7 linked regions of the Homo sapiens genome follow. The protein of the gene in region 1 purifies or fractionates together with the protein of each later gene. This does not show direct contact. Each region holds a gene or a part of one and is shown in the gene's direction. Other genes may lie near its edges. The genes, in order: TMEM87A, TMEM131, PBXIP1, KLHL22, HTR1E, TOR3A and COL11A1.

Region 1 (3,500 bases):
GTAATGGTAGTTTTTCAGTCATTCTTTCAAGTAAATATGGTGTTTCGTGGAAAAAATGATTAGTTTAACTCACAAGTCAAAGCAATTGCAGAGTGCTTTATCTCAAGACAATAATTTATTGTATTTTGCATGCTTTCCATTTTGTCACCTAGATTATTTAAAAAGTCAGGTACTCAAAAGGTCCAGATTTAATAACATTAATAATTTTTACTGCTTTATCTAGGATATTCTTACATAAAAGTGGCATTTTTAAAAACTGCCAGTTTGTGACTATGAAGAATATGACTGCTAGTAGAATTAAATGCCACTGCCTTAGTTCCTGATAAGGGGCAACAGTTTTACCCACTATTGCTTTTGTAATATCGTTACAAGTCAAATAGCATACTATTATTATTATGAAAATAGTTTTTTTTTTTTTGAGATGGAGTCTCACTCTGTCACCCAGGCTGGAGTGCAGTGGCGCGATCTCAGCTCACCACAACCTCTGCCTCCTGGGTTCAAGTGATTGTCCAGCCTCAGCCTCCCAAGTAGCTGGGATTACAGGTGTCTGCCACCACACCCGGCTAATTTTTGTATTTTTAGTAAAGATGGGGTTTTGCCATGTTGGCCAGGCTGGTCTCAAACTCCTGACCTCAGGTGATCCACCTGCCTCAGTCTCCCAAAGTGCTGGGATTACAGGCGTGAGCCATTGTGCCCAGCCATGAAAATAGTTTTGTCTATGGTTCAACGGCCACACTTTTGAGAATTGCCATAATCTAGAATACTTGAGCGTTGAAAATATATTGCTCAAAGAATAAAGCTGGAAGCATCACATTACCTGACTTCAAACTGTACTACAGGGCTACAGTAACCAAAACAGACACAAAGACCAATGAAACAGAGAAGACAGCCCAGAAATAAGGCCGCACACCTACAACCATCTGATATTTAACAAAGCTGACAAAAAACAAGCAATGGGGAAAGGACTCCCTATTTAGTAGATAGTGTTGCGGTAGCGTGCTGGCCATATGCAGATTGAAACTGGACCCCTTCCTCACACCATATTCAAAAATCAACTCAAGATAGATTAAAGACTTAAATGTAAAACCCAAAACTATAAAAACCCTGGAAGACAACCTAGGCAATACCATTCTGGACATGGGAAGTGGCAAAGATTTCATGATGAAGATGCCAAAAGCAATTGCGCCAAAAGCAATTGCAACAAAAGCAAAAATTGACAAATGGGATCTAATTAAGTTTAAGAGCTTCTGCACAGCAAAAGAAACTATCAATAGAGTAGACAGCCTACAGAATGGGAGAAAATATTTGCAAACTATGCATCCAACAAAGGTCTAATATCCAGCCTCTATAAGGAACTTAAACAAATTTATATGCAAAAAACAACCCCATAGAAAAGTGGGTAAAGGACATGAACAGACACTTTTCAAAAGAAGATATACAGCCAACAAGCATATGAAAAAAAAAAAGCTCAGTATCGTTGATTATTAGAGAAATGCAAATCAAAACCACAATGAGATACCATCTCACATCAGAATGGCTATTATGAGAAAGTCAAAGGATAATAGATGCTGGCAAGGTTGTGGAGAAAAGGGAATGCTTATACATTGTTAGTGGGAGTGTAAATTAGTTCAACCACTGTGGAAAGCACTGTGGCAATTCCTCAAAGAGCTAAAAACAGAATTACCATTTGACCCAGCAATCCCATTACTGGGTATATATCCAAAGTAATATAAATCATTCTACCGTAAAGACATATGCACATATATGTTCACTGCAGCACTGTTTACAATAGCAAAGACATGGAATCAACCTAAATGCCCATCAATGGTAAACTGGATAAATGTGGTACATATGCGGCCATAAAAAAGAATGTGATACATATGCAACCATAAAAAAGAATGAGATCATTTCCTTTGCAAGAACACAGAAGGAGCTGGAGGCCATTAACCTTAGCAAACTAACACAGGAACAGAAAGCGAAATACCACGTTTTCACTTATAAGTGGGAGCTGAATGATGAGAACACATGATCACAAAGAGGGGAACGGCAGACACTGGGCCTACTTGAGGGTGGAGGGTGGGAGGAGGGAGAGGATCAGAAAAAATAACTCTTGAGTACTAGGCAGTACCTGGGTGATGAAATAATCTGTAAAACAGTTCCCTGTGAGTTCAGTTTACCTATATAACAAAGTTGCGTATGTATACCGGAACCTAAAATAAAAGTTAAAAAAAAAATATATATATATATATACACACACATATATATAGTTCTGAGTTGAATTTTTCAGACCTTTTCCATTCTGTTTCTATCTCTCAATTTGCATTTTTAAGAAGATTATCCTAGTTCTGTGCTTGCAACAATTTTCTGCTCTATCTTAGCTTATGAGCATGAATATTTTTTTGTTGATGTTGTTAATTTGGTCAAGTAAATCTTTTAAGTATATTTTAATGTGACAAAACCCTCTACACTCTGGCAGTTTCCCAGTCTACTCAGAATTGTTAGTAGAACTATGCCTTGTGAGCCAAAGACTAGAGTCTAATAGTCCTTGAGTCTGATAGTGTTTGATTCTTAGATATTTTTATATAGAGCCTTTATCTGATGCTGTTCATTTTTAAAATAGCAAACTCAAAATTGTATCTGTACTGCAGGTGAACTGTTTGTTGTGCTGTGCTCTTAGTATCTTATTTTTTGGAAGGTGAGTTAACTACTCTGTATTATCTCTTTTTCCAGGCAGAAGAAGTAGAGTTGTATTTGGAAAAACTTAAGGAAAAAAGAGGCTTGTCTGGGAAATATCAAACATCATCAAAATTGTTCCAGAACTGCAGTGAACTCTTTAAAACACAGGTAATCTTTGAAAGTGATTGGAGATAAATAGAATAGGCAAAAATTGGAATGTATATATTTTTGGCTGTATCCACTTCCGACTTCTCAAGTATTTCTTTTGGCAGAAGTAAGTGGAAGCATGTTCTGATAGGTACATAGTCAGCCACTTATACATACTCATCAAAGAGAGGTTGTACTTTGCTTTGTGTGTAAAAAGCAAACCCCCATTTTTTTATTGTGGTAAAATATACACTACATAAAATTTACCATTTTAACCATTTCTAAGTGTATAATACAGTGGCATTAAATATATTCACATTGCTGTGCAGCCATCGACCCATCTCCAGTACTTTTTTTTTCCCCAAGGCAGATTCTTGCTCTGTCCGCCAGGCTGGAGTGCAGTGGCACAATCTCGGCTCACTGCAGTCTCCATCACCCGGATCTAAGCAATTCTTTCACCTCAGCCTCCCAAGTGGCTAGGGCTACAGATTCACACCATTACGCCTGGCTAATTTTTTTTGTATTTTCTGTAGAGACAGGATTTCACCATGTTAGCCAGGCTGGTCTTGAACTCTTGACCTGAAGTGATCCACCCACCTTGGCCTCCCAAAATGCTGGGATTACAGGTGTGAGCCACCGGGCTGAGCCCCATCTCTAGTACTTTTATCATCCCAAAC
Region 2 (3,500 bases), on another chromosome or scaffold:
TTTAAATTAACACATGGAAATAAAAATGATTTATTTTGTTCTTGTTGTTTTTTTTAATAGTTATTTGGGATTTGATCATGCTGCAACATTATTTCACATCCGAGACAGCCCTGCTGATCCTGTGGAAAGGCCAATTTACCTTACTAACACTTTCAGTTTTGCGATCCTCATTCACGATGTGTTGCTACCAGAAGAAGCCAAAACAATGTTTAAAGTATGTCCAGGAGCCCTCATACTTTTAATTTTCCTGGTCTACCAACTAGGTGATGCTGACACTTTGTTTTTTTTCTCTTCTGTCATTTCTCAGGTTCACAACTTCAGCAAACCAGTCTTAATTCTTCCTAATGAATCAGGATACATTTTTACCCTGCTTTTTATGCCTTCCACATCATCCATGCACATTGATAACAACATTTTACTTATTACCAATGCTTCTAAATTTCATTTACCCGTGCGGGTATACACAGGCTTTTTAGATGTAAGTATATTATCCATCTTTAACATTTAAACTCCCTGCCCACCTTTAATGTTTTCAGATCTTATTAGGCAGTCGTGTTACATACGGTTTGCCATTATTTGTGCTCTGCAAATTGATCTAATTCTCCTAGTCAGTTTTTACCTTTCCAGGTAACTAGTTTTTACCTTTTCTGGCAGCTCTCTCTTGTGATACAGTTGACTTCTCTAGTTACAGTCTCTACTTAGATCTTTTCCACATTCTGCTTTCTCTTGGATATGCTTTTAAACTATTGTAATAATGGGGAATATAGAAAAGAACTAAATAGAAAAATGATAGGTAGAAAAAGAATAATACAAGGAAGGTGAAGAGGGATATACGTAGGGAAGAGATGATCAAAACCAAGAAATATCGGGACAAAGAAGAGAATCAGATAGTAAAGAAGAAAATAAGGTAGTAAAGACGCAAAGTTGGAAGATTATATATGACACAGAAGGAAACAATGAAGGTACTCCTGGTACAGAAAATAAGCAGGGGGAAAAATTCCAAACAAAGCTATCTTGAGAGTGATCAATGAAAGAAGCTTAGATAAGAGAGAAAACTGTTAGGAAAGATAAAAAGAAAGCTAGGACATCTAGAAATGTAGCCCTTTAAATAGTTGGCATCGATTAGAATTTTAGAGCTGGAGGGACCTTCAGTAATGTCTCGCTCCTGCTTCAGTTATTTTGTTTCAGTGATCATTGGTGATGCTTGCTGAGACCACATGCTTTTTGCCCGATCCCCTAGGGTTCCACTAAACCTCTCTTAGTAGTTTAGCTTCCTGCCTCTTTCATGTGCCCTCAGAGGAAGAATAGCAACTCAGCAGAAGCCATGGCTGTTTTCATTTCTGATTACTCAAAAGACTTTCGTCATACAAAGCCCTCAACTATGTCGTATAAATGTGTGGTTTTATGCATATATACAAAAGCATAGGAAAGCATAGAACTGTAATTTTTTTTTTTTTTAGATGGAGTCTCGCTGTGTTTCCCAAGCTGGAGTGCAGTGGTGCAATCTTGGCTTGCGGGTTCAAGCGATTCTCCTGCCTGAGCTCAGCCTTCCGAGTAGCTGGGATTATAGGTGCACACCACCATGCCCAGCTAATTTTGGGGGGAACTTTAATACATCTTTAATATAGTTACTTTCTCTTCATAATATTGTTAGATCAATGTGACTTTTTTTTAATCTGGTTCTTTTATATCTTTCCAGTACTTTGTATTGCCCCCCAAAATAGAGGAACGTTTCATAGATTTTGGAGTACTGAGTGCTACAGAAGCAAGTAATATTTTATTTGCAATTATAAACAGCAATCCAATTGAGGTAAAAACCTGTTTTTATTCTAAATCACATTTAAGGATTTTATGCTTGTGTTGTGATAATCATTTTCATATCTTTTTTTAAAGTTGGCTATAAAAAGTTGGCATATCATAGGAGACGGTTTATCAATAGAACTTGTAGCTGTGGAAAGAGGCAATAGAACTACAATAATTTCAAGCCTGCCAGAGTTTGAAAAATCCTCTTTATCAGATCAATCATCGGTAAGTAAACTTTCTATTGTCTCCTTAAAGTAAGATGGATGTCTAAACTGCAAGTGGAAGATCATTGCTATGCTACATGTATCACTATTATTTTTATGCAGTTCATAATAGTGTTGGTTACTTGCTATTAAAAGGACCTTATAGGTAATGTAATTCAACCCCCTATTTTTATGATGAGGGCACTGAAACCCAAAGGGGTTTAATTCTGCCTTGTCATAAAAAGTTCTATAACACACAAATTTTTAATTATCTTTTTGTAACACAAGTGTCATTACAGGAGAGATTCCCATGGGTACTAAACTAACCTTGTGTTCATTGAGTTTACTGGGAAAAAGAGATGGCCCTGAACATTGGTAGAAAATATTTTCAATTATGCAATAATACGTCTGTCCAGATACTGCCTCAGTATCAGTGAGGCAAACATTGTTTGATCACTGTGAGTCTGCCCACATATTTTTACCTGTCTAATAAACATGTTACAGTTGGTTGTCAGAGAGCGCTAAACAAGAGAAAACAAATTTATTAGTTTCAGCACTCACCAGTACTGAAAGGGGAACTTGGAGTTTATACCTACTGGGAAAAGAATTAGAATCACAATCTGTGAGAAGGAGCATCAGATAATCTCATCTGCAGGTTAGAATAGAATTTCTTGGGGCAGTTTTACAAAAGGAAAAGCAAGTGTCCTTATACACAGAGAGTGTTGACAAACACGTTTCCGTGGAATGCCATAGGTCTGGTGTTTTGTTATATCTGACCTCAGCTGCCCTGAAGATATGAATATTAACATTACAGAGTGACATCCACAGCTTGAAGCAGAGCCAGCTGTGTATACAATTGTGGCTCCAGTGTGCCTGAAAGGTTGGTGGAAGGCTGTGTCCCTCTGCTCCAGCCCCTTTGGCCATACAGGTCCATGGGTAAAGAGTGAGGAGCTTTATTAGCAAGAGGACCACACCCCTCCCTCTTTCAGGAACCAGCTTTTTCAGTGGCCCATGGAACAAGTGTAGTAGAGAAATATCAAGGGATGGACACTATTTTGAGATATTTGTACACAGTGATATGGTAATTCAGTGTCATACTGGTATATGTTAGGATTTGTTAGTCATTTTATCGCTACACCCTTCATGTCCATTTTAATAGGAAACTTCAACTAACAAGGCTAATGAATGATACCATTTCTACTATCTACAGGTAACATTAGCTTCAGGCTATTTTGCAGTCTTCAGAGTCAAACTTACTGCAAAAAAATTAGAGGGGATTCATGATGGAGCCATCCAGATCACAACAGACTATGAGGTAAGGACTTTATGGGGATTCATGGCAGTGGGGTTTTTCTGAATAAGTCAGTCCTTTCTTGTCTTTATGAAACCAAAGAATTAAGTTTACTCAGAGTTACAGTTTACCAGTTTCATACCTTAAAAACTGAGCTTTCGAGAATAGTTTATAGAATATTGATGTTCATAGGCTCATAGTTT
Region 3 (3,500 bases), on another chromosome or scaffold:
GGAAACAAGACTGTGAGAGCCACACATTGGCTATCCTTAGGTGAATCTAGGAAGTGTGTGCTTATATAAAGATGTAGATGCCGAGGCTCAGGATGGAATTTGGGGATCCCTGTGTCTCATTCATGATGGAGATGGGGTGGAGGATGAAAACCAAATCCTCTGGGTGTTCCAGGCAGGTGGATCACTTGAGCTCAGGAGTTTGAGACCAGCCTGGGAAACATGGCAAAACCCCGTCTTTACAAAAAAATACACACACACACACACAAATTAGCCGGGTGTAATGATGCATGCCTATAGTCTCAGCTACTCAGGAGGCTGAGGTGGGAGGATCGCTTGAGCCTGGGAGGTGGAGGTTACAGTGAGTTGTGATCGTGCCACTGCACTCCAGCCTGGACGACAGAGCCAGACCCTGTCTCAAAAAATAAAAATAAATAAAAATAAATAAATATTAAAAAAAAAAGAAAGAAGATGCAGACCTGAACTAAGGCAGGTACAGTGTGGGTTGTGAACAGGGGTGGACTGTCAAGATGTTTAAGTGTAGAACTGTGAAACTGTCTGGATGTGAGGTGGAGAGGGAGGGCTTAGGTTAGCTAGATGGTGGAAGCAGTGCCTTCCCCTGAATTGGGGAAACACCAGAAAAGAACCAGTTTGCAGAGCAGTGTGTTGAATGTTTGGTCCCAGAGGGAGTGGCCAGCAGGCAGTCAGACATACAGGCTTGGAGCTCTGGGAGGCCAAGTGAGGAGTTACACACTAAGGACTCATTGCTGAAGGGGGGTGTCAGTGGTGTGGGTCAGAGAATTGTGACTATGTGTACAGTGAGAAGAGCAGAGAACCTGAAATGGTGCCAGGGAGACCACTGACTTTAGGATCAGGGAAGAGCCAGGGAGGGAGAATGGGAAGGAGTGGCCAGAGAGTTTGGAGGCAACCCAGGAGGGTGGTAATAGCTGCAGAAGTTTGATGCACAGCGCACACTGAGGAAGGAGGATGCTTTCAGGATGAAAATGGCTTTTATAGCTCGTAGATTGACAGCACTGGTCTCCTGCCTCCAGACTGGGCAGGGACAGTCATCAATGCCCAGGCAGAAGTGGGCAAGTGGGCAAGGTCTTCATGTGCCCCTCTCTGGGGTCAGGGCTGACGACCTCCCTCCCTGTGCCTTCCTCTGATTCCCCTCTCTCCCTGTGTCTCCCCATCTCTCCAGTCACCTCACTGCCCTGTCCCTGTCCTTTCCCCTAGCTTGGATCAGGGAGGAGGGCCGCTGCTCCAGCAGTGACGATGACACCGACGTGGACATGGAGGGTCTGCGGAGACGGCGGGGCCGGGAGGCCGGCCCACCTCAGCCCATGGTGCCCCTGGCTGTGGAGAACCAGGCTGGGGGTGAGGGTGCAGGCGGGGAGCTGGGCATCTCCCTCAACATGTGCCTCCTTGGGGCCCTGGTTCTGCTTGGCCTGGGGGTCCTCCTCTTCTCAGGTGAGTGGTACCTCTGAGGCTGGGGCTTTGGGCTTCCATGCCTGCCTGCCTTCCTGCCATGTTCTCACCTTACCTCACATCACCCCTCCCCGAGGGCCTCATCAGACTCCTCTGTCTCTGTCCTTAGGTGGCCTCTCAGAGTCTGAGACTGGTGAGTAGGGAGGAGCCTGTCTTGTGCTGGGGAGTTGTATGTGTTCTCTGGTTCTGTGGGTCAGGAGTAGGGGTGCTGGGGGCTCACATTTATTTCTCAGTTAGTGGCCTTGTCAGCTGTTCAGGGTGCCCCTTGGCCCTTTATCTCACCAAACCGCTCAGCCACAGGGTGGGTCCTGAGCAGGAGTGGTGGCTGTGTGAATGGGAAGGTGTGGGGAGAATGGGCTCTGTGTGCCTCAGGACCAGTTTCAGGGTTTCCCTTTCCCACAGGGCCCATGGAGGAAGTGGAGCGGCAGGTCCTCCCAGACCCCGAGGTGCTGGAAGCTGTGGGGGACAGGCAGGTATGTGTGAATGTCTCCAGAGGCAGGTGGGGCCTGGCTGGGGAGAACCTGGGCTGTGGGGTAGCATGGCATAACAGGCTCTTCTGCCCTCAGGATGGGCTAAGGGAACAGCTGCAGGCCCCAGTGCCTCCTGACAGTGTCCCCAGCCTGCAAAACATGGGTCTTCTGCTGGACAAGCTGGCCAAGGAGAACCAGGACATCCGGCTGCTGCAGGCCCAGCTGCAGGTGGGCACAGGCAGGAGGGGCTGGGCTAGGGTAACCCACCTAGGCCAGGCGTCTGTCCTAGCATCCTCCCCCAAAAGGAATGTTTCCTATTTACCCACACATCCTGACCCTCCCCTCTCCCACTATAGTCAGGGCGTCTTCCCAGTTCTTGGTTCACATCCCTTGTGCTAAGGTTTGGGCCAGGGCTGGCATACCTGTTCCACATGGTACATGAAACATACATGGTATCACCTGTGATTGATTGGTGTGGTCTGCCTGGAGCACTGTGTGGAAAAGGATTTAAAGAACATGCCAGGTGCCATGATCAGTTAACACTGTTCCAGGAAATAAGACTGTGAGAGCCACACATTGGCTATCCTTAGGTGAATCTAGGAAGTGTGTGCTTATATAAAGATGTAGATGCCGAGGCTCAGGATGGAATTTGGGGATCCCTGTGTCTCATTCATGATGGAGATGGGGTGGAGGATGAAAACCAAATCCTCTGGGTGTTCCAGGCTGTAAAACGGGCTCAGGCCACCTGCCCACTATAATAGAATGGAATTGGGGTAGAAGGCATTGGGGCTATCCTGACAAGAACTCTTTGTGACTTCCTTTGTCCCAAACCATATTCTAGGCCCAAAAGGAAGAGCTTCAGAGCCTGATGCACCAGCCCAAAGGGCTAGAGGAGGAGAATGCCCAGCTCCGGGGGGCTCTGCAGCAGGGCGAAGCCTTCCAGCGGGCTCTGGAGTCAGAGCTGCAGCAGCTGCGGGCCCGGCTCCAGGGGCTGGAGGCCGACTGTGTCCGGGGCCCAGATGGGGTGTGCCTCAGTGGGGGTAGAGGCCCACAGGGTGACAAGGCCATCAGGGAGCAAGGCCCCAGGGAGCAGGAGCCAGAACTCAGCTTCCTGAAGCAGAAGGAACAGCTGGAGGCTGAGGCACAGGCATTAAGGCAAGAGTTAGAGAGGCAGCGACGGCTGCTGGGGTCTGTACAGCAGGATCTGGAGAGGAGCTTGCAGGATGCCAGCCGCGGGGACCCAGCTCATGCTGGCTTGGCTGAGCTGGGCCACAGATTGGCCCAGAAACTGCAGGGCCTGGAGAACTGGGGCCAGGACCCTGGGGTCTCTGCCAATGCCTCAAAGGCCTGGCACCAGAAGTCCCACTTCCAGAATTCTAGGGAGTGGAGTGGAAAGGAAAAGTGGTGGGATGGGCAGAGAGACCGGAAGGCTGAGCACTGGAAACATAAGAAGGAAGAATCTGGCCGGGAAAGGAAGAAGAACTGGGGAGGTCAGGAGGACAGGGAGCCAGCAGGAAGGTGGAAGGAGGGCAGGCCAAGGGTGGA
Region 4 (3,500 bases), on another chromosome or scaffold:
AGCTGCTTGTGGCCTCACCTCCCGAAGCTCACATGGGACTCCTTGGGCCCATGAAAAGGGAAACAGGACAATTTCCAGGATGGCTGCCCAGACTTCGTCAGGATCCTTTTGTGGGATGGCTCATGCATGCACACAGTTCACTCAGAGCACAGAGTGGGTCAGCCCACTACCAGGGCCCTGCCACCAGCGCCAGGTTCTTCTCTGAATGCTGTCACTCTTGGCAACATGGGCTTAAGTCCCTGTTGGTATAACTCCATTTTCTTGTGTCTTCACTTTGCAGAGGAATGTTTGCTGGGGGATTGAAGGAGATGGAACAGGAAGAGGTCCTGATCCACGGTGTGTCCTACAATGCTATGTGCCAAATCCTACATTTCATATACACCTCCGAGCTGGAGCTCAGCCTGAGCAATGTACAAGAGACACTGGTGGCTGCCTGCCAGCTTCAGGTGAGGCATGTCTCATCTAGCAAGGCAGACCCACACCCAGGTGGGGTTCCCTGAGATGCCCATGATGCCTGCCGGGCACTAGCATTGGCTTGAAGATGGGTCAGGAATGTGAGGAGACCAAGCAGTGACGAAGGCCATGAAGTGGGGAAGACTCTGGAGTTGTTCCTGGAGCTCAAGCAGAGCCGCTCTAGACACCCCAGGCCTCTGCCTTTGCCCTCTTCTCTATTGCTGGTTGTTTCCCCACTGTCTGAGTCTCCCTGTCATTGAAAGCATCCTGCACATAAGCAGGTAGGCTGACCCGAGGCTGCATGTGGACGTCCTGTGTGCTCTGGGGTCTGGCAATGGGGAGCATCCACCAGCATTGCTGCCAGGGCCCTTCCTGCCTGTCCCCTCACTGGGCCACTTCAGTCTCTTGAAAACTTATGTGTTTTGTTACTGAACTTTATCTATCTATTTGTCTGTCCATCCATCCATCCATCCATGCATGCACGCATCCATCCATCCATCCATGCATGCATGCATCCATCCATCCATCCATCCATCCATCCATCCATCCATCCATCTATCCATCCATCCATGCATGCATCCATCCATGGTGGCAGGCATCCATCCATCCATCCATCCATCCATGCATGCATCCATCCATCCATCCATCCATCCATCCATCCACCCATCCATCCATCCACTCATTCAATTTATTGGAGACAAGCTCTCTCTCTCTTGCCCAGGCTGGAGTGCAGTGGCACGATCACAGCTCACTGCAGCCTCAACCTCCTGGGCTCCAGCAATCCTTCTGCCTCAGCCTCCCAAATAGCTAGGACCTATAGGCATGTGCCACTACACCTGGCTAATTTTTAAATTATTTTTATAGAGATAGAGGCTTGCTTTGTTGCTTAGGCTAGTCTTGAACCCCTGGCCTCAAGTGATCCACCTCAGCCTTCCAAAGTGTTGCGATTACAGGTGTGAGCCACTGCGCCTGGCCTATTTTTTTTTTTTTTTTAAAGACAGGGTCTCACTCTGTTACCCAGGCTGTAATGCAATGGCATGATCATAGTTCACTGTAGCCTCCACCTCCTAGGCTCAAGTGGTCCTCCCGCCTCAGCCTTCTGAGTAGCTGGGACTAAAGATGCGTGCCATTGTGCCTAGCTGATATTATATATATATATATTTTTTTATAGGAATGGGGCCTTGTTATGTTGCCCAGGCTGGTCTCAAGCTCCTGGCCTCAGGTGATACTCCCACCTTGGCTTCCCAAAGTTCTGGGATTACAGGTGTGAGCCTCTGTACCCAACCTGTTATTGAACTTTAAGTACTTGTTTTCCTGCAGAATTCAAAAAGTTTTCTGAGGCTTTGACAGTGTGACTTATGTTTTGGATGATTATTCTCAGTGGTGTGGGTGCAGTTACACGGGACTGGGCCTGCAGGTGCCTTTGAGCTATCAGGCAGAGGCCTGATAGGAGTTGACAGTCACCTCTTCCCACATTTCTTAAAAGTGAAACAAAATGCTATGCTAAGTTCATCATTCTGACCTTTCTTCCCATGAGAGCAGGTTTGACGCAATTAAAAAAAAACAACTCAAGTCACAGGAAAACCAACCTGTTCGGGGGCATGTGGAGGTGCCACCCCATGTGACAGGGCCCTGGCAGCCTCCCTGTGCCCTGTTCTCAGATTGGTGGATAGGACCTGGATGCTGGGTGGGTTGATCTGAGATGACTGACTTGTCTCACCATACCTGCATGGTGAGTAGATGGAGTTGGCTTTTACAACAAAAGAATTTCCCCCTGTTCTTTTATTTAGAGATCTCTTCTGTCCCCACATCCCTGTCATTGTTGCTTTGGGAACCCTCATCCAATTCTCCACCCTGGCAGCAGTTAACTCCTGATTCAGCTGCCTCTGAAACATCTCCCCCAGCATGGCTCAGGTCCAGCTGTCCTATCTCCTCCTCCACACCTGCCACTCTCCCGGAGCTCCCCTGTCAGTCCCCCTGCTCTGTGTGTCCTGTGACCATCCTGCCAGTTCCCTGGGCTCAACCTCAGTGGCTCCTTGAGCCCGTCCACCTTCTTAATTCCCTGCGTCCATGTGAGGACAGGTCATCCTTCTCGGTATTGCTTGTAGCCATCTCTGTTCTGTGTTTCCATTTCCTTCCCTTTTGCCTGGCCTCCATCTGTATGTTTCTGCCATTTCTTTCTTCTCCCTGCAGTGATCACACACACTGAAACCAGATCATCTTTCTAACATCACTTTCCCTCTCTCACCAGTCAGCTTGGAGGCCTGCAGTCTCTCTCTGTTGGTTTGGCCAGTGCTCCCGACAGCCCTGGGTCATCTCCCCCAGTGCCTCAGAGGTCATCTCAGAGGCAGCAGCCTATCTTAGTTTTTTAACATATCAGGCTTCTGGGCCAGGCTTGGAGGTTCATGCCTGTAATCCCAGCACTTTTGGAGGCCAAGGTGAGAGGATTGCTTGAGGCCAGGAGTTTGAGATCAGCCTGGGCAACAAAGCGAGACCTCTACAGAAGCACTTTAAAAATAGCCGGGCATGGTGGCATGCACCTGTAGTTCCAGCTACTCGGGAGGCTGAGGTGGGAGAATCACTTGAGCCCAGGAGGTGGAGGCTTCAGTAAGCTGTGATCACCACACCACTACATGCCAGCTTATCTCAAAACAAAAAACAAACAAACAAAAAAAAACAGGCTTCTTCACAATATTGTTTTATAGCAGGTTTTACTTGGCATAACCATGTCAAGTCCATAGGCCTGTAGAATCATGTATGTTCACATAGCTAGTGACTTTTGGAGGCTTCCCCCATGTGTTGTGCCCTGCAGTAGGCCTGGGACCAGATTCTTCACGGTGTCCCCAGAGGCCTGAGTCTGATTCCCAGTAACACTGTCCTATTGGGTTACCCCAAGCAAATGCAGTCCCTTCTGTGAGCCTCGTATGGGGCTTTTGCACATCCTGAGCCCAGGCTGGTTCCTCTGTGAGATTTCACTGAACAGAAGGCCCACTGCTCTAAAAATAGGACTGAAAGGAGAGTCAGCAGGGTCCTCTCAAGGAGCTGCT
Region 5 (4,125 bases), on another chromosome or scaffold:
GAGAGGCGCTCTAGAAGGCAGGAGAAGGGCACACAGGCTCGCTTTTTGAACTGAAGAAGGGTTTCATTTGGTTTAGAATTGTCAAACTTCAAAAAATAAATAAATAACTTAAAGTGTTTTTCAAATCAGCCATAAGGCTACAAACCAGAAAGAAAAGTGTGAGGCAGGTGTTTGGGGCAGCTACCCAAGTTGCCTACATGGTTTCCAAGGTCCTTTCAACTCTAAGGTTTGTGTATCAGGCTGTCTACAGATCATACTGTCTCCATAAGATTGTCTAGTTCATTTTATGGCTAGTTTGAACAATCTGATTTTCTTTTTTACAATGGCAGGGGCTCAATCCATGTTAGGCTTCAATGTTGAGTCACCCAAGTTCTCCACAGAGAATAACCAACCAGCCGTAAGGAAGCTTCTTTTAGCAATGCCAGGATTCTGCAAAGTCCCTCCCAGCTTAACTTTTCTGACCTTGCGGCAGCAGAACAACAAAAAGAACAGCCCCTGGCACCCTCAGAAGAGCACAAAGCCCTCTGACAACCTGAGATGGCGCCCAGGTAGACTTCCCTCAAAAAAAAAAAAAATGGCAAGGCTGCTTCAGCAGGTCTTTCAGCCCCAACCACTCCACTCTCCGTCTCCTTTTCTTCACTGCTTTCCCCACCTCTCTTCCCCCCTTCCACTTTGACCCACCCCAATTTTCGTCCACTTCTCCCTCACCCCTTCCTTGTAATCTCTCTCCTTGAGGCATCCTGTGGATGTTGACTGTAATCTCCCCTGGAGGAGGGCTAAGAAATGCACCTCCAGAGGGTCTGTTTGCCATTGGAACCGCGTAGAGAAAGCGTGCAAACCCGTCAACTGCTCCCGCCGTTCCTCTCCCTCCTCAACCCAGGCTCGCTACAGAAGAAGGGAGTAGGGTCTGCCCCCTTGTTGTATCTATTTTCCCCTTCTCCGCCAGGGCTGTGGCCGGCAAGGGGCTCAGGAGGTGAGTCCCTTGCCCACACCTCCAACCCCGCTGGCCCGGTTTATAACATGGACAGCCCTGCCCTCTAGTGTCTGCAACCGGGAGCCCTAAGGCGCCATCAGCTCCAGAATTTCTCTTTTATAACCTAAGCAAGACCTGGAGTACCTCGGAGCTGCGACCTCCAGTTCACAATACCACCTGCCTCACACCCGGGCTCATCTTTTCATCCCACACCCACCACCCCCCTCTCCGTTCACGGTGTCCCGGGAGGCTGCGACCTGCGTAGATGATTTAGCAGACTGCCCCTGCCCATGCTCCTGCTCCTGCTCCTCCTCCTCCTCTTCCCCGCTCTCTCCCTCTCGCCTCCTCTTCCAGTCCAGGCGCCCAGACTCGGCGAAGCGCAGCGCCTGCCACCAGCGGTGCCTCGGGCTGCCCGGCGCGCCGCGCTCCCAGGTTCTGTCTCGCCGCACCCCGGCGGGCACTGGCGCGGGCAAGGACGCTGGCGGGGAGAACGCCCTGGGCTCAACGTACTCCAGAATCGAATGTTGAGAGAAGCAGTGCTCTGATCCAGCTCAGGAGAAAAAGGAGCGGGTTCCGAGTGAGACTTCTGGAGCCAGCTGGACGTGCCGGTTTGCCCAGTGCGGCGCGGCTGCACGCACCGTCCACAAGGTGAGGGGCGCACACCTTCCGGGACGACCTTGGCTTCCCTTCTTACCCCCACCCACTCCAGGTACTCCAGCTCTGGCTTGGGGATGTTTGCCAGCTTTGAGGCGCAAAGGCGGCGGGAGTTGGGATGCGGGGTGTCGGAGGGAGACTGAGGGTCGCCCGGGCACCGTGCCTGCACCCTGGATTATAGTACAGAGAGCATTTCTTGTTCAAACAATTCCTCAAATGTGTGAACCTGAGAATCAACATTGTGTATAACTGTGGTTTGAGCATTTCATCCTGCTTCCTTGCAAAAGGATTAGAGGCAGCTTAAAGATTAAATAGGTATGGAACGGGTGCTGGGGGGGGCCAGGGAAAACTTGAGTAGAAATCACAGGGAGGTGGTGTGCTCCAGGGACCCCGGAAGAACTGTGTGATTTCAAAGCCAGCTGATTAAAAAACCTTTGATTAGAAAGGACTGCACTGTTGCTCCAGCCCTCAGAAAATAATACTGTGCTCAGTCCTGATAAACAAAATGCCCAGGTGTGGAGGTAATGAGGCAGGCTCATTTTTTTTAAAATACAAAATAAATCTTGGAAGTAAGAGTTAAGATGAGAAGTTTGGTCTTAAGCCATCTCCACCCAATACTGCAAGGTGAGAGGCTGACCCCCTACCTAACGAAAAGGAAAGGAAATTGAGTCTAAAGGGAAGTGATTCCAGCTCCTATCACAGGATCATAGTGGTTTTGCATCTATATGTATATTTCTGCCTGTGCCCAGTTTTGGAAGAAAGGACCTTGTATTCAACCCAACGCTGCTTGTCCTTGAGTTAGAAGGATAAGGCAGATGGTGTCAGCATCCCAAGGTGTTTCTTCCTAACCTTTCTTATTGTCCTTCCTTGCCTCCTGCACCAAATCTCTTGGGGAGGGAGCAGCCCAGGAGGAAATAATAGATCGTCAAATGGGTTGGGGGAGCAGTGTTTTTTCCAAAATAATTTAGGCTCATTTTATCATTCTTATGTTTTCCCTCAAAGCTCTAAGCAGTACATCGTCCTAAGCTGAATTTAACATTGCTCCAGAATATATATTTATCATAGTTGTACATTCAGACACAATATGCATAACCTTAAACAGCCAGGATGCACTTGTGAATCAGGGGCTTCCCTTACTTAATCCTGCGCAAGAGAGGCAAAGCAGGCACGTGGGTCTGATTCCCTGTGCGGTCTCCTTCATGAGGAGCATATGTGAAATACCTTTGAAATACAGAGAAGATTGAGACAGCTTTTCTCTTTCTGGTACAGTTGCTTTCCTGCTGAATTAAATGAGATGACCCTGTCTTCAACAAATAAATGAATGGAGGCATTTGAGGCCCATTTAACAAATGCACAAAATATGCCTGCCTCTGTTTTTCCTCCCTTCAGAGCTTTAGCCTCCAGCCCACGGAGTTGTGATGATGAAGCCCACCTCCTAAGTGGGACTCAGCTCAGTTTCTGTATCATATTTAAAACAGAGTATGTTGCTTATTTCTAAAATTGCATAGCACCTCACCACTAACTATTTTGCTGCATAGAGGTATTTCATCACTAAGAGAGCTATATAGAGAAACTCACTCAAATCCTGATTCATCATTGTTGATAGAACTTAACTATTGTGTCATCATCACCTGACATGGGCTGCAGAAGCTCCAAGGATTGCTATAGATCTCAATTGAGACTTCTAGTAACAGAGCTAGAAAGGAGCCTTTTAAAGTGTAGCCATGACTCTGGTCATTAGGTATATGCATGTTCAAATATTCCCTTACGTGCTTGTTTTCGCTTTCATAACAATTTCCAGGGATGAAAACTTAGCAGATTATTTTTATAATGAAGAGTATTCAAATTAACAATGTGTATCCACCAGCTAACAAGTTTTAAATTCCACAGAAATCAGCATCACAAGCATAGTAAAATCAAGTTTTCATTCTTTCCTCTTCTGCCATAATGACTTCATTCAAGGCCTAGTCCCAGACCAAGTGCATGGAAACGATGGCTCATGTCTCTCAACATTTGCCCAAGGGAATGGTGCCTACCTTGCAACTCAGCGTGATGTCACCTTTATTAGCCATTCTGGTGTCTATACAAAATATTTGCTCCCCATTTCTTCTTATCGATGCCTGGTCAGCAACAATCATGTAAATAAGTTTCCATTCTTTTGAGGAAGATAACGAAGTCAGCGTTTTTCAGAAGTGGTGCCTAGGAAGAGACAAAATCCAGGACACACCTCTAGTTCAGGTAACACTGCAATATATTTCAATTTCCTGCTGCGTGATGGGGTTATTATTGAAGAGGGAAGTAAGGTATATCATTCACAGCACATTGTCCCCACCTGGCTCAAGCACCACCCATTCCCCAGGTGGGCTCAATATGCTACCCCCACCACCACCAAGATACCAAGGCTGCAAATGAAAAGTAGATCTCAGCCAGGCATGATGGGTCACACCTGTAATTCCAACACTTTAGGAGGCCAAGGCAGGAGGATCACATGAGCCCAT
Region 6 (3,500 bases), on another chromosome or scaffold:
TTCCTTCAGCCTTGGAAGTCTGTTTCTTCTCCGATTATGAGAAGTCATCACTGGCTTAAAATCCAGGGTATACGGGTTGAGAAACCCATGCTTCCTCTGAGTACCTGTAGTTCAGTTGTGACGCTACCATGCGGGACCCAGTCACTGAATCACTGCACTGAGGTTCCTGTGCTTTCACTGACATCTTTGCGTGAAGCCAACTTAGAAATAACTTGTCCAACCTCATCTTTTTGCGGAGGCTCCAACTGGGGGAGTCCTGTGTCTGTTACAAGTCAAGTTTGGGCCCTTGTTGACCCAATTTGAAGGCTTCACAACAGCTCGAGCCTCGGTAGGAGTCAAACTGAGTGCTCCCTTCCCAACTCCACTCCGGCCTCGCCTTCCCCAGGCCAGCACTTGCTTGCTGGGGGGGTTTCCCAAGCTGCAGGGCTCACTTTGTGAGGATGGGGAAGTTGGTGAGGGGATGCTGATTTTCATCCTAGCTTGGGGAGTGTGGAGGGGTGAAGGGTTGAGCTGTGGAGGGCAGATCTAGTTTCGGTGTGGATTCACAAGAGGAAGTGAAACAGGGTCCAGGCGCAGTGGCCTGTCTACTAAAAATACAAAAATTAGCTGGGTGTGGTGGCAGGTGCCTGTAATCCCAGCTACTCGGGAGGCTGAGGCAGGAGAATCACTTGAACCTGGGAGGCAGAGGTTGCAGTGAGCTGAGATCACACCATTGCACTCCCGCCTGGGCAACAAGAGAGAGACTCCATCTCAAAAAAAAAAAAAAAAGTGAAACAGGTTTAAGCCGTTGCTGGGTTGGGATTTCTGTGTAGTGGCGGGAAGCCCTTCCTGGTCTGCAGGTGAAGCTGTGGAGACTTAAAATGCATTGCGAAGTGGGAGGGGAGTGGGGCGCCCAGGGTGATTTTTAAGAGGAGAGAGAGATCTCTTGCATGATTTGGGTGCCCAGAACCAGGAGGTGAGGACAATACATTCTTCCAGTTAGTTCTTATTCCCACGTTCTGTACTATTTCCCACCTTCGGAGGCAGCCGGGCTCACCTCTCCTCCTGTTACAGAGAGTCAGGTGGGGGCTGCAACATGCAGATGAGCCTGAACAGAGGAGTCACCTGGGTGCTCTGTGGTTTCTCCACCTGAGCCCTGGGTCGGGCAGTCCAGGGGACCCTCTGAACCACCGATGCGGAAGCCAGTCCTTCCCACGGCACGGAGCAAAGCATGGTGACCCAGCCTCGGGCCTCCCTTTCGCTTCCACAGGGATCTCCCTTGCGCTGAGTGTCTTCCTCCTCCCTCTCCCCGAGACAGGGGTCTCCCGGCTTCAGGTGGTGCCGGCCACACAGACTCTCCCACCCACTTCTCAGCTTGGAAAACCTCACCTGGGCCGTGATTGCCTAACGTGACCCGGTGACCCTGCAGTCTCCAGGCAAATGTTATAGCCTTTGTAGTATTTTGGCCGTCGACCTGACAGCACCACCCTCCAGCTGCCTGTCCTTTCCCCCAGTGACCCAGCCTGGGTGGACTGTCCGAGGCCATGTGGTTGTGGGCGGGGTGGGGGGGGGGGCCTGCGGGAAAGCCGCCTGCCAGACTCCTCCATGCCACAGCAGGGTGGGGAGGTCCCCCAGGAGCCTTTGACAAGGATGTAAAGGACACATTAAAAAGATGTGGCCTTAGGTTCTAGTGGCTCTGGTGTGGGCCTGTGCCCAGCCTTTACGAGCCAGAGGTTCCCCCCTCCAGCCGAGGGCTGGGCTGACATAGTCTGTGCCCAGGCTGTCCAGGGCAGCAGCCTCTCAACCTCAAGTTCTCAGGTAGTCCAGCGATGGCTGGGAGGAGACACACTGTTGATATTGGAGTCTCTGGACTTGATTTCTATAATGAGCTTCAGTTAATCATCCACTGTAATAAGGATTCTAGGGCATGAAAGAAAAGCACAGCTGATTCAAACTGCTAGAGTGACCAAGTCATACTGCACGAAGGAAGAGCAGCAGTTTAATTCTGAAATAAATCCTAAACCTGCTGTTTGAAGTGAGTTGCCAGTGGCTTTGCTGGCTTCCTCCTGGTGGCAGGAGAGAGGAGGTGGGAGCTGAAGCAGGGAGTTGAGTGTGGTGCTCAGAGCCTGTCCTTCATCCGGGCCAGGGAATTGGGGCCGGTGACTGGGCACCAGGAAAGTAACATTACTTCGCCCACTTCTGCCAAGTATAGAAGGCTGCAGGAATGGGCTCACGTGGCAGGACAGGAACGTGGAACTCTGCGATCGGAGCTGCTGCCCTGTTCTCATGGGAGCTGTAAAGTGACAAGGGTAATTAAAGCCTGTTTCCTTTGTGCTGTTGTCAGGAAAAGGATAGAAAGGACTTTGAAAAATTACAGAACTACACAAATAGAAATTATTTGTGGAGTCGTGGTGGGCCTTGCGCTCCAGCCCCCAGTGTCTGTTGGCTGCCTGTTGACTAATGAGAGGACAGCTTAGATTGGTCCAGTCCTGACTTTATAAATGAGAACACTAAGGCTCAAAGAGATGACTGAGTCTATGTCTGTTCTTTAGGAAAGATGTAGCAGTTAGCATGGGGTTTGTTACCAGTAACAACCAGTTCTCTGGTGAGGCCTGAAGTCCCCTTCCTTTGGGGTCTTAGGGATAAGGGCTGGTGAGATCAGCCCTGGCAGGGGCTGGAGACGGGGGATGAGGGCTGGTTGAGAGAGGTGCCCTCTGGCCCCTCCAGACTTCCCAGCGATCCAGGTCAGCAGATGAGCTGGGAGGCTGTGGAAGGGAATTGAGGTGCTCCAGAAAGACAGTGTCTGTCTAAAGGTAGAACGCTGGTGCCAGAGTGGTGGTCCTGAAGATGGGAGGGGCGGCGCGTAGAGAGGGGCCCCAGGTTATGGGTCAGTGGGTGAGATTAAAGCCTCTAAAGTGGTGGAAGAAAAGGGACTTTGGCTATGGGACAAAACAGGAGAGATTGAGAAGGGTGGAGATGGTGCAGACACATGTGCAGAGATGTCCCTTTATTTACTAAAGGCTGAGTGCCTGATACGCACATAGCACTGGGGTTACAGAAATAAACAGGCCAAGCTTCCTGCCCTATGTGATGGGACCTCTCTTTACCCATGTAAGCACCTTACAGAATGGAGAAGGCCCTGGAGTCCATGCCCCTAGGATGGGGTGAGGGAGTATCACTCTGTGGGGTTTCACAGCACCCTGGATCCTGCCTTCCAGCCCCTGCCAAGGTAAACAGTGCTGCCTGCCTCCTGTGGGGAATGCAGGATGGGGCAATGCCCTGGCAGCAGGGTCTTGCCTCAGCTGATGCAACTGTGGCTGCTCCTGTGTGCACAGATCATGTGCCTGGAAGGCCTTCCTGCAGCAGGGGCAGTGTCAGAAAGTGGAAGAGTGGTGTGAGCAGCTTCCCCGGGGAAAGCCTGGCTGAGCAACTGACCTTGAGCAAGCACTGCAGATGGCCCTTGTTCCTGCCGGGCTCCTCCAGCTGGGAGCTCTCAGCCCCTGGTAAATTCTGGCAGTGAA
Region 7 (3,500 bases), on another chromosome or scaffold:
CAAAGTTAGACTCTAAAGAAAATAATATAGAGAAATTTCTTGGAAGTGAATGGATTAAAGAAAATTTATGACTTCATACCTAGTCATATTATTTTACTTTGAAAAATCAAACTATAACTTGGAAATATTTATTATACTCATTAAAAATCAATCCTTGCTGTGATTTAGAATAACAAGGTTAAGTGTGATTTTTATAAATATTTATTTACATTAACTTCAATTTTATGTTTCATATATATGTTTATTTTTAAAGTAAATGATGTATCTCAGCGATTTATTGATATTCTTTGGCAGTTAGTCCATTACTTACTATTCACAGGAGGTGGGGTTTACCTGGAATTCATAGTGACCACACTATGATTATCTTAAGATAGATGAGTTTATGTAAGGGTTTTAAGTAAGAGTTAGACTTAGCTATAATGAAGCACTAAAAAAAAAAAATCTAATTGAATCACTTTTTACTAATTAAAATTACATTTAACCTTTGGCAGTTAAGCCAATACTGTATCTTGTAAAAGGCTGATCAAACTGGGAACTTTGGAAGCTTGTCAGGAATCGATAGTGAGCCCTGAAGAAGTGTAGTTTTGAGTGCCCAGGATCAGCAGGTGAAATGGTCCTGGCTTCCAGAGTATGTGCTAGTCCAACAGTGCAAAGAGATCGAATTTGTCCATTTGGTTCCTTAATCAGAAATCAGAAACTCAGATATGCTTCTGATAAGAAATGCAGTGTTTGCTAAACTCATTAATATTATGTCTTTCCATTTGTTTTTTAAATTCAAAATTGATCAGGACTATAATAGAGAAAGAATATAGACTAAAGAGAAACACCTTTCTGCATGCTTTACACACATAGCTTCAGTTTAGGTGGCACAGATTCTTTTACCTAGTTGTCCATTAGTTTTGAAATTAAGTTTCTTAATATCTTAAAGTGACAATTTGCTTCATAATTAATACTTAACTGAGGGGATACTTTATAGAAGTTATTCTCTAAAAGGTATTTGTATAGTTTTAAACAAAGTTATGCAGTAGCAAAGTGAGAAATGTATTTGCATAACATAATTGGTAAAAAATTAATATTTTTTCGGTTTTTTATTTTCTTCAATTTGTGACTAAAATAGAACCACATGGTTGTTCATGTTAAGTTATCCTTAAAATACAGCAAAGCAAACATCTCTTTTCAAATTTATGGGTTGGCTTTCTAGCTAAGAAAATTGTATAAAGAGTCACCTTTCTTTTCTAAAAATTTGCTTTTTCCTAGGATAAATTCTCTTCACTCTGATTAATTTAGTGAGATGCTGGCTATTTCATGATAACAAGGATTTAAATCAAGTTTGGTTGAGAGTCTCTGTGTAATACAAGCTGAATTTTTAAAAGGTTAAAAAAAGGTGTTTATATAAGATTTTTAAAAGAGAATGCTAGCACTAGAAATTATAGAAATTGCTAATCAATCTTACCTTCTCAATAAATGAGGAAACTAAGACACAAAAAGTTGTCAGCTGAATACTCTTCCTCATAAAAAATATTCTTGTAATATTCAAGGTTTTTCTGAGTAGAGTGAAGATCTGTAATGGTGATCAAAAGAATTTTAAATAATAGAAGTCTGAGACAATGGAATGAGAGGAGAGAACTTAGTAGTGCAAGTTCTAATTAAAGTTTTATTTTGGATTGTCAAAACACCTGAAACTAATGTAAGTACCTTTTAGCTCAGGAAAAAATTGACATTTAATTTATGGGAAGTACTCACTCTCAATGGACTACCATGATATCTGTTGTGCAATCAACAACTATTACAAATTTAATTACCATATGTGAAATTACAAGGAAGTAAAAGAGAAAGAATTCGATATATTATCGCTATATTTATTTCCAGAAGTCTGAAATTATTAGACCATATATTTGCTAGAGTTTAGATTAGTGAGAAGGTAGATATAGTGAAAATGTCTTATATAAAGAAATTTAAATAGAAAATAGTTACAGAATGAATTTTTTAAATACTCTATTTACTACCTTTGAAGAAAGGTAATTTTTGATCATTTGTATTCTTAATTATGTCATTTTATAAGATTACATCAAAGTAGAAGGCGTAATACTCTATTCATTGCTGGATTAAGAACATAGTTTTGTATGCTCTCTAAAGTTGTTAATAGAAGACTAGGTCCAACTTTGAATTTCTAAGAAGCTTAGAAAATTATATATTTATTTCAAATAAAAAATGGCAAATTTCTGATATTTTCAGGTTAATTTCAATTGATTGGATGACATATATTTTATGTATACATATAGTATGACTTTTATTAATGTCAGATAATCATTATGACACACTTGTGTGTTGTTTGTTTAACAGTTTTTTTTTAAACAAGTGGCAAACTGAAGAAAAAAATAGGAGAGAACGTAGTAGTGCAAATTCTAATAAAGGTTTTTATTTTGGATTGTCAAAGTATCTGAAATTACATAAGTATCTGTTAGCTTAGGCATAAATGGGCAGTTAATGTATAGGAAGTAGTCACTCTTAGTAGGCTACCATGATATCTGTTGTGTTGTCAACAACTATTACAAATTTAATTACCACATGTGAAATTGCAGGGATGTAAGGGAGGAAAATTTTGATTTTCTATCTCAAAATTTATTTCTAGAAGTCCAGTCTTCAACTAGTATTCCCACCAAATTAAGAGTCTTTCTGTTTTTAGGGAAAAGCAATACATGGCCATAGGGTCCTGAAGATTATACTGTGAAAGCATTTATCATGAGTTTTTATACTCACAATTAACTATACCATTTTATGTAAATATGGAGTTTAAAAAATGCTGAGATATCTCCATCATTGTATACAATTTTTAATGATTATGTTTAGGTATTTAAAAGCCAGAATTTTATTAGATACACTTTTATTTTCTCCTTACTTTTGGAGAAGTAATCAAGCATGGATGGCGTGATCATTAGGAATTCAAGGCAACTGCAAGTGGGGACTGAGCGTTGGTCAGCATTTCTGCTTTTACTCCTTCACTTCCCTCATGTAATACTGGGGAAATGTGACCTGAGTTGGGAGTGGTGAGAGGAAACCAAACTTTTTCTTTTTTGACCATTCAAGTTTTGTTCCTTAGCAAAGAAGAGAGATAAACGCTGATGTTATAAAAAGTTGCAATGTTCCCTAAGTTCTTTCACTAAAGAGTCAACTTTAAATGCAGTTTTCAGTGTAGCTTTCAGTATACACTAACGCACTTTCTACATGAGGACATATTCCTTCTAAATTCTCTTGCAATTTAATTCAAAACCTAAAGGTATTTTTTTTCCATTTTAAAATACTTTCTGTTTTAGAATGCATCTAATGTATTTCTTTCTCCTTCCTTCAAAACCCTAATATGGTTTTATTGATATAGGTAAGTGTATTCTTTTATATGTTCACTTGTGTCAGAACTCAACATGAATAATACTAGCTTGTAGCAAAGATGAAAGACAATTTTAAAGTGATTTAGTGAGTAATATCTATTTATCAGTTGCAGT

The links.
Region 2: the proteins of TMEM87A (region 1) and TMEM131 purify together in Homo sapiens (affinity purification with mass spectrometry; one large-scale study listed by BioGRID and IntAct). This does not show direct contact.
Region 3: the proteins of TMEM87A (region 1) and PBXIP1 purify together in Homo sapiens (co-immunoprecipitation; one large-scale study listed by IntAct). This does not show direct contact.
Region 4: the proteins of TMEM87A (region 1) and KLHL22 purify together in Homo sapiens (co-immunoprecipitation; 2 studies listed by BioGRID and IntAct, with this or other methods). This does not show direct contact.
Region 5: the proteins of TMEM87A (region 1) and HTR1E purify together in Homo sapiens (co-immunoprecipitation; one large-scale study listed by IntAct). This does not show direct contact.
Region 6: the proteins of TMEM87A (region 1) and TOR3A purify together in Homo sapiens (affinity purification with mass spectrometry; one large-scale study listed by BioGRID and IntAct). This does not show direct contact.
Region 7: the proteins of TMEM87A (region 1) and COL11A1 purify together in Homo sapiens (co-immunoprecipitation; one large-scale study listed by IntAct). This does not show direct contact.

The regions. Positions count from the first base shown.
Region 1 is NC_000015.10:42,263,434-42,266,933, reverse strand, and holds part of TMEM87A (transmembrane protein 87A isoform 1 precursor), read left to right. Parts: intron 1-2,730; coding exon 2,731-2,844; intron 2,845-3,500. UniProt on the Homo sapiens protein: Potential monoatomic ion channel gated by mechanical force, implicated in normal touch sensitivity through the generation of mechanically activated currents.
Region 2 is NC_000002.12:97,810,949-97,814,448, reverse strand, and holds part of TMEM131 (transmembrane protein 131 precursor), read left to right. Parts: intron 1-60; coding exon 61-214; intron 215-307; coding exon 308-478; intron 479-1,699; coding exon 1,700-1,810; intron 1,811-1,893; coding exon 1,894-2,028; intron 2,029-3,216; coding exon 3,217-3,321; intron 3,322-3,500.
Region 3 is NC_000001.11:154,946,100-154,949,599, reverse strand, and holds part of PBXIP1 (pre-B-cell leukemia transcription factor-interacting protein 1), read left to right. Parts: intron 1-1,233; coding exon 1,234-1,467; intron 1,468-1,594; coding exon 1,595-1,618; intron 1,619-1,887; coding exon 1,888-1,958; intron 1,959-2,051; coding exon 2,052-2,183; intron 2,184-2,796; coding exon 2,797-3,500. UniProt on the Homo sapiens protein: Regulator of pre-B-cell leukemia transcription factors (BPXs) function. Inhibits the binding of PBX1-HOX complex to DNA and blocks the transcriptional activity of E2A-PBX1.
Region 4 is NC_000022.11:20,468,296-20,471,795, reverse strand, and holds part of KLHL22 (kelch-like protein 22), read left to right. Parts: intron 1-280; coding exon 281-446; intron 447-3,500. UniProt on the Homo sapiens protein: Substrate-specific adapter of a BCR (BTB-CUL3-RBX1) E3 ubiquitin ligase complex required for chromosome alignment and localization of PLK1 at kinetochores.
Region 5 is NC_000006.12:86,936,203-86,940,327, forward strand, and holds the start of HTR1E (5-hydroxytryptamine receptor 1E), read left to right. Parts: upstream 1-1,325; 5' UTR 1,326-1,621; exon of another isoform or gene 1,622-1,682; intron 1,683-4,125. UniProt on the Homo sapiens protein: G-protein coupled receptor for 5-hydroxytryptamine (serotonin). Also functions as a receptor for various alkaloids and psychoactive substances.
Region 6 is NC_000001.11:179,088,570-179,092,069, forward strand, and holds part of TOR3A (torsin-3A precursor), read left to right. Parts: intron 1-3,500.
Region 7 is NC_000001.11:103,102,023-103,105,522, reverse strand, and holds part of COL11A1 (collagen alpha-1(XI) chain isoform A preproprotein), read left to right. Parts: intron 1-3,500. UniProt on the Homo sapiens protein: May play an important role in fibrillogenesis by controlling lateral growth of collagen II fibrils.